Regions from separate parts of the Homo sapiens genome. Here regions 1 and 2 are each linked to region 3. Evidence: fine-mapped expression QTL. A gene starts in region 3. Each other region holds a variant in brackets. All regions are shown on one strand. Distances are between the middles of the regions.

The links.
Region 1: its variant is fine-mapped to the expression of LINC01819 in whole blood (INTERVAL, PIP 0.98).
Region 2: its variant is fine-mapped to the expression of LINC01819 in whole blood (INTERVAL, PIP 0.98).

Annotation. Positions count from the first base shown.
Region 1 is chr2:43,191,627-43,194,386 of GRCh38, forward strand. No RefSeq gene overlaps it. Among named protein-coding and RNA genes, the nearest start is that of ZFP36L2, 34 kb to the right of the region's middle. RefSeq lists an enhancer at 2,384-2,760. The variant A/G (reference allele first, on the strand shown) is at 1,121.
Region 2 is chr2:43,089,713-43,092,472 of GRCh38, forward strand. The region is part of intron 2 of LOC107985876; the gene reads right to left. It also overlaps the pseudogene RNU6-242P. Among named protein-coding and RNA genes, the nearest start is that of LINC02580, 11 kb to the right of the region's middle. The variant A/G (reference allele first, on the strand shown) is at 1,556.
Region 3 is chr2:43,038,419-43,041,178 of GRCh38, forward strand. LINC01819 (long intergenic non-protein coding RNA 1819) reads right to left here and starts at 1,125. Exons shown (of 6, transcript NR_110585.1): 1 at 702-1,125. RefSeq lists an enhancer at 2,585-2,760.

The sequences.
Region 1 (2,760 bases), 150 kb after region 3:
TGGGTTTCTTCCTCCAACAGGGCCTGCTCTTTGCTGCCAAGCTCAGCCTGAGCAATCCTGGGGCTCCCCTCACAAGCCTCCAAGCGTTCCCCTCTCCAGGACAGCTGGACATTGCAAACCCTCCCTGACCACTCCCCACCCTGATCATCACCCTCACTTCCGTCCTCCAAGCAGGGGCTGTGGCCTCACAGGCTCCTGGTGACCCCAACTATGCCACGTTCTTTCCTGCCCACACTCGCCCTGGCCCCTCCGCAGGGAAGTGGTACCTTCCCTCCCTCTGGATCTCTGGGGATCCTGCTGGTCCTTCAGGGGCCTGCTTATATGTCTCCTCCTCCAGGAAGCTTCCCTAAAGATGGCAGTCAAAAACACATTCTCCTTCAAATGGCTGTAGCACTTACTATATGCCAGGCACTGTGCTGAGCCCTGGGTCTCATCTAACCCTCACAGCAACCACAAGCAGCAAATTCACTCCACTATTATCACCTCCAGGTTCTAGATTAAAAAACAGAGGCACAGAGAGGTCGGGTAACAGACCCAAGGTCACACAGCCAGAAACAGATCAAGGCAGGATTCAGGCTCTGGCAGTTTGGATCCATGGCATCCACTGGATTAGCAACTCCTTGGGGCAGGGACCATGGGTCAGGACTGGCTTCCTGTAGGAGAAGTCTTAGTATTTGCTTAGAAAGCTCAGAGCTGGACCCCTCCCCCAGACCTCCAGTCCTCAGAGTCCCCTGTAGGAGGCAGCACGGGGAAGGACAGAATTTTGTTTTTATTACCACTCAGCCCAGTTTCTCAAAAGTCACTGCCTGGGCTGAGCAAGGTGGCTCACCCCTGTAATCCCAGCACTTTTGGAGGCCAAGGCAGGCGGCTCACAAGGTCAGGAGTTCAAGACCAGCCTGGCCAATATGGTGAAACCCCATCTCTACTGAAAATACAAAAATTAGCTGGACATGGTGGCATGCATCTGTAGTCTCAGCTACTCCTACTTGGGAGTCTAAGGCAGGAGAATCGCTTGAACCTGAGAGGCAGAGGTTGCAGTAAGCTGAGATTGAGCCACTGCACTCCAGCCTGGGCAACAGAGTGAGACTCTGTCTCACAAAAAAAAAAGAAAAGAAAAAAA[A/G]AGTCACTGCTTGGCTTCTTTTTGGTTCTGGCAGGCTGGGCCCAGCCCAAGTGTGGCATGTGAGTGAACCACCCAGAGGAGGGCTGGGGGCTTGGCTCCTGGGGGCTCCAGTAGCTCCCTGCGACCTATCTCTGCCCCTCAAATCCTTCCATTCTAAAGGCCAGCTCCATGCCCACCTCCTCCAAGAAGCGCCAGCTGCTGCCCCCAGGCCAGCCTCCACCTGCTCCCACAGGCTGGGGAGTGGTCAGGGAGGGTTTGCAATGTCCAGCTGCCCTGTCTCCTGTCCCAGGCAGCGATGTGTCCAGGGCTCCATACCAGCTCCAAGCTCTCTGCCTACAGCTCCCTCACATCCACACTCACTGGGTCCCAGCTGGAGACCTGGTGGCTTTGAGAGGATACCGTGGCTTCTTGATGTACCTGAAGACTTTGGAACGCCAGAAGTGTTCAGTCCTGTGATGGGTGTCAGCCAGGCCCAGAAAGCACACAAACTGGGGGACACATATGCTAAGTTATCCAGAAAGCCTCAGGGCTGGGGCTGGAAGAGGAGGGCCTTGCCATCCCAAGGTGCTGGTGTGTCCACACGCCCCTGGGGTGACCGTGTGCATCTGTGTGTGTGTGTTTGTGGGTGGGTGGCTGACTACTCTGAGTTTGTGGGTGATTCATGTGTACCCTCGCGACAGGCTGTGTTCAGATAGTCTGCTTATGTGCTTGAATTCAAGGACACAAACATCCCTAGGTGCAAGCTTGCACGCACAGTCCTCCCTACACCTCCACACGCAACTCCTAATCATCCCTCAGGATCCTCTCCCCGCCCTGCTTCAGCCTTAAGGCCTGCTCTGACCCTCCAGCCCATCCCACTGACCTGCTGACCTTCATCCCAGACACTGCTGGGTTCAGCCCTGGAGCCTGGTCACTCTTGCTCCCTGAGGGTGAGGTTGACTCCTTTTTAAATTACCCCTAAAGCCCCACTTAGGGAGACACAGCCTTATCAATCAACACTCCTTGAATGAATTAAAACAAACTCCAAGGAAAGGAACTGCATTTGGGTGGATGGAAACAAGAGCTCTCAAGCTGTTTTCTTTCCTCTTTACCCTTTGCTCTCTGTCTCTTCCCATCTGTACTTTCTCTAACTTGTTTGCTAACTCAATCGTCAGCTTAGAAAGTACTTCCTTGTATACCCTCCTCTCATTCAAATCTCATGACAATCCTCCAAGACACGAATAATTATCCTCATTGCACAGATGAGGAAACTGAGGTTCAGGGAGGCTACGTGAGTTGCCCAAGGTCACACAGCCTGGAAGGAGTGGGTAGGGACTAGAACCCTCATGCGTGAATGGACACCACCTCCCACCACTCCCCACCAGTAAGTAGAGGGTGGAGGGTAAAGGGCGATCCAGGGGCTCGGAGAGGATTGGCCTCTTCAAGCCCTCTCCATGGCCCAAGGTCACCGTGGGAGGGAGATGCACCTGGCCCCCAGGGCCAGGGGTTACCCCACTCGGCCAGCAATGGGAGAGGCCATGAGATCTGTGGACATTGTTCCTGGGCCTGTGGTTACTGATTTGACAACAGCCCTGTTCCTCCCCAGCCAGCCAGGGAGTTAATGATTAAGGAGGAGATTAAATATTAACCACCTGTGGGGC
Region 2 (2,760 bases), 51 kb after region 3:
TGGAAGCCATGCAGTGTCACTTCTACCTCATTCTATTTGTTAAGGCAGTTAAAAAGGCCTGCCCAGGTACAGCAGGAGGGAGAAACAGTTCCATTTCTTGATAGGAAATGGGTCAACAATCTGAGCCATATTTAAAACCACCATAGTCTATCCTCTGGACATAAATTATTTACATTCCTTTCACATACAAAATATACTCATTCCTTTGCAAAGATCCCCCAAAATCTCATCTATTATGGCATCAGATTTAGGCTAGAGAGGTCTAGGATCCCATTATATCAACCATTCAGGTATGGAGGAAGTTCCTCAGATGTAATTCCTCAGGCACATTTCCTTAAGTACTATTCCTCTTTATTCAGAGACTTGTGAACTAAAGAGACAAGTTATCTGCTACTGGACCGCATGCAGTGGCTCACACCTGTAATCCCAGCACTTTGGGAGGCCAAGGCAGTTGGATCACCTGAGGTCAGGAGTTCAAGACCAGCCTAGCCAACATGGTGAAACTCTCTCTCTACTAAAAATACAAAAATTAATTGGGCATGGTGGCAGGCACCTATAATCCCAGCTACTCAGCAGGCTGAGACAGAAGAATCGCTTGAACCCAGGAGGCGGAGGTTGCAGCAAGCCAAGATCACACCATTGCACTCCAGCCTGGGCAACAAGAGTGAAACACTGTGTCAAAAAAAAAAAAAAAAAAAAAGTTATCTGCTGCTTACACACTGAACATCCAATGATGAGATAGGCATAGTGTAGCCACTATAAACACTCTTATTCAAGAGAGGGGAGAGGAGGCACAGAGCCATGACTGGTCCATAGCAATTCTGAAATCCATTCAGGCTCATATTGTGTTGCCAATTTCTTGATTAGGGCTCAGTTCTACTGCCTGGGAATGATTCTTTGTGGCTTTTGGCTCTGTTCTCTAGATTCTTGGTTCCACCTTCTGAATCATCCTTCTTTCTCTATAAAAAATGGCTGGTGATATGGTTTGGCTATGTCCCACCCAAATCTCATCTTGAATTTCCACGTGTTGTGGGAGGGACCTGGTGGGAGGTAATTGAATCATGGGGGCAAGTCTTTCCCGTGCTGTTCTTGTGATAGTGAATAAGACTCACGAGATCTGATGGTTTTAAAAAAAGAAGCACAAGCTCATCTTCTCTTTGCCTGCCACCATCCACGTAAAATGTGACTTGCTCCTCGTTGCCTTCTGCCATGATTGTGAGGCTTCCCCAGCCATGTGGAACTGTAAGTCCAATTAAACTTCTTTCTTTTGTAAATTGCCCAGTCTCAGGTATGTCTTTATCAGCAGTGTGAAAACAGACCAATACACCTGGTGTTTCCAACTGAGTAGTTTTCAGCTTGTTTCCTTCCCATAGAATTTTGGGGGTCCAAAAGCCTTTTTTCATTTCACACTATTCTGACCCTTTTTGCCCAAGCTGGTGGTGCTTCTGACAAAATAATTCTATTAAAAACTGTGTGGGTTTCCCATGAATCCTATTGGGGCTCACTCTGTTAGTCAAAAGCTATAACCAAACATTTCATCAAGAAAACATTCTCT[A/G]CATTCTCAATGTGAGGCTGGTGTAAAACGATTTACTTAAGATACTTAGAAGCCCTGTTGTTTAATGAAGAGGATCTGTGAGGCACACTCTTTTTCATTTTATTTTTAATTTGTTTTTATTTTAATATGAAGTGCTTCATGAATTTGCATGTCATCCTTGCACAGGGGCCATGCTAATCTTTTCTGTATTGTTCCAATTTTAGTATACGTGCTGCTGAAGCGAGCACTGAGGCACACTCTTGAAATACTTAGAGGGCCTTTGTCTATTCAAAATATTTTATGAAGCCTTAGATATTTCTGAGATTTTAACAAAGGTTCTTATAGTCCCACTCTGGGTTTTATCTTTGTCCTGAAGCCCTTTCATACTTTGAGAATCTTTTGCCATCTGGGAGGCTGAGAATGAAAAGCAGATTTATTTTCAAATCCAGCAAGCCCCTGGCTCTTGTATATGTTTTATAAATTTTGCTTGAAAGTTAAAGCTTCCTTTTAACTCATCTTTCTCTGTCTTTATCATATACAGCTAAAATAATCCAACTAGCATTTTCTAATCCAACTAGCATTTTCAACAGTCTGCTTAAAAATTGTTTTAGCCCAAACCATTAGTTCATTAGGCATATTTTCTTTTTCATTTTTCTTTTTTTTCTTTTTTTTTTTGAGACAGAGTCTTACTCTGTCACCCAGGCTGGAGGGCAGTGGCACAGTCTCAGCTCACTGCAACCTCTGCCCTCTGGGCTCAAGCGATTCTGCAGCTTCGGCCTCCCGAGTAGCTGGGATTACAAGCATGAGCCACCAAGCCCAGCTAATTTTTGTATTTTTAGTAGGGACAGGATTTCTCCGTGTTGGCCAGGCTGGTCTCGAACTCCTGACCTCATGTGATCTGCCCACCTCGGCCTCCCAAAGTGCTGGGGTTAGAGGTGTGAGCCACCGTGCCCAGCCTTCATTAGGCACATTTTCTATTGCTCACATAGCTTCAAGTGACAATGTTACTAACTTTCTTCCACCACGTAATAAGGGTTTGTCCCCTTTCCTCCTGCTTCTAATAAAAATTTCTCACTTTCCTTTAAGCCCTCACCAGCAACTTCCTTGAGAACTATCAGACTTCCATCAACAATATCCTCAAAGTCCTTACAATCTCTACCCATCTCCCAGTCCTAAAGCCACATGACTTAGGTTCTGTGATGGCAGCATTCCGTTTCTAGGTTATA
Region 3 (2,760 bases):
CTGCACTCCAAGCTTCAGGGCCTCCCAGACCCTTAGTGCACGTTCCACTACACTAAATCACCCCGCCCCTCCTCTCCCCACTCTGCCCCAGGCTTTGGACTCACCCAGGAGAATGAATTACACCTCCCAGCCGGACGTGAGGCCATTTGTCTTGTGCTCTGGAATCCTGATTAGATAAAATCTGAACAGAGCACATTTACTTATTTAGTGTATTTCTGGGTGGGTGGGTCCTAGCCCTTGGGGATCACCTTCTCCAGATCAGGGTGAAGAGTTTACAGAAGGGAGGAGCAGGTCACATATCCAGAGCAACCAGCTCAGGCATTCACCCTGCGGGGTCACAGGAACCCCACCGTCCCCAGCTCAGGCCCACTCCACTCCAGCTCCAATCTCCCCAGTCCTGCCTCCCCGCCTCCAGCTCAGGAAGCTTTAGGCGTTGGTTGCTCATCATATGGCTGAGGCTGGCAGAAAGAAGGACTAGGTGCCCAGTGATGTGGCCACATCGCACCTCTGGCGGGAAGTGGACTCTCTCCGACCCCCCTTGGGGGCTCTGGTGGCCTCTGCGGGACCTCGGGTTGTCTGAGCACACGCACCCTCGCCCTCTCTGGGACCTGATGCCTCGATTTAGGCTCAGACCCTGTAAATGCCCCTTGAGAGCCCTCAAGGATCCAGGGTTCTCTTGTCCTCAAAGAAGCAGAACATACCTGCTCACCAGCCTGCAGCTTGTCCTGTGTGTCCCGTCTCCTCAAGTACGGAGAGGCCAGGGCTTCCTGAATCTCATCAGATCCGAATCTCCCCAGATCTCATCAGGGCCTCTTCCCAGGAGACACCAACTCTCAAGGTCTGGAGACACACCTGGAACCTGTATTTTCCCAAATGGTCCTCCTGGCTCTTCCCACAGAACTGTCTTCTTGTCCCTGGTCTCCACTGATGGGGAACAAGGCATGTGACCCCCTGGGTCGGGCAGGCCCAAGGCAGGCGAGGCAGTGAGAAGCAGGCGAGGGGATAGGGCTGCTTGCTCAGGTAACTTGGGTTCAGGAGGTTTGGCAGCCGAGCTGCCTCTCCTGGCAGCGGGGCTTGGCCAAGGGCAATGTGCAGCCACACAAAGCCATCCTCACAAAGCCACCCTCACAGCCTCTCTGGCCGAGAGTCCCTGGGCGCTCACTTGCCGGGATGCACAGGCACGCCTCTGGCCAGGCCGGGCTGCGGGGGTTTGTGGCCTGGAGAATCAAAGAGCCGCCCTCAGCTCGGAGAACACTTCCTCTAGAAGGCTCTGGTAACAGCACACCGGGTCTGAGGAGAAAGAGCCTCTGTGGGCCACGGTGGGTCTTTGCCCACAGAGGCTCACACACCACCCCTCCTGTTCCAACACCACCCCCTGCCCGGCCCCAGTTCTCCTACCAGCCCAGGGGACTCAGGTGGGCCAGACCTTTTCACACTGCCCCTCCCACACACACCACAGCAAGAGGGTGAGCCTCCCTCTTTCTCTGCCGGGGTCTCTGGGGCCTCCCACGACGGGGGTGGGTGGTGCCATAAGCCCTGGGTGCCTGTGGGCGGTGGTCCCACGGATGCCCTGCTCAGTTCCAGACATAGTTGTTATTTGGACTTTTCACATCAAAGTAATTAATTAAATATGCAATAGAATACATTCTCTTCCTCAGTCAGTGGCAACCCCATCCCTTCATTCACTGAGGCCGAAACCTTGGATAGCCGTCCTGGAGTTTTTCAGACCCATGTCCAAACCACTGGAGCATCTTGTCAGCAGGATTCCAACTTCTTCCAGAGCCCACCCGCCTCTCACCACCTCTCTGTCATTTCCCACCTGGATGATTACAACAGTCCCTGTCGAGGCCCTGGCCCCACCACGCCACCAGTGGGGAGAATGCTTCCTCTAGAAGGCTCTGGTGGATTTGGGTGATGAGGGGGAGAGGGGTAGTCCCGGGCCAAGCCACACCAGTGACCCCACGTGTGTTCAGAACCCTCCTGTCTACATTTGATTTCATCTTGGCTACTCTTGTCAAGACATGCAGTTTGTTAGTCTTGAGCAAGTAAGAGTCCTTATTTGTATGCCCTCACATGTTATCACAAATCCCCCAGATTCTTTTTCAGATCTCATGCCCTAATTTGGGGTTTATGAAATCTACCATGCTGATAGGGATTCCTGTCTGTCATGGGGACTTTGAGCCATGACTCAGAACAAGACACTTATCAATCTGGGGCCTCTCCGAAGATGCTGAGACCAGGGCCAGTCTCAGCTGCAACGCCCTGCTTGGAAGCCACTATGGGATGATTCTGCAACAGATATCATGATGCAACAGATGCCCATGAATGACATGGGAAAGCTGGGCCCCATCGCCCAGGGGGACACTCCTGCTGTGCTCTGTCAGCAGGAGGGAGCCTCCTAGGAACTTCATCAGGACCCATTCTTTCTCTTTTTCTTTTCTTTTTTTTTTTTTTTTTTTGTGAGACGGAGTCTCACTCTGTCACCCAGGCTGGAGTGCAGTGGCTCAATCTTGGCTTACTGCAACGTCCGCCTCCTGGGTTCAAGCGATTCTTTTGACTCAGCCTCCTGAGTAGCTGGGATTACAGGCATGCACTGCCATGCCTGGCTAATTTTTGTATTTTTAGTAGAGACAAGGTTTCACCATGTCGGCCAGGCTGGTCTCAAACTCCTGACTTCAAGTTGTCCTCCCACCTTGGCCTCCCAAAGTGCTGGGATTACAGGCGTGAACCACTGCGCTTGGCCAGGACCCATCTTTGTGT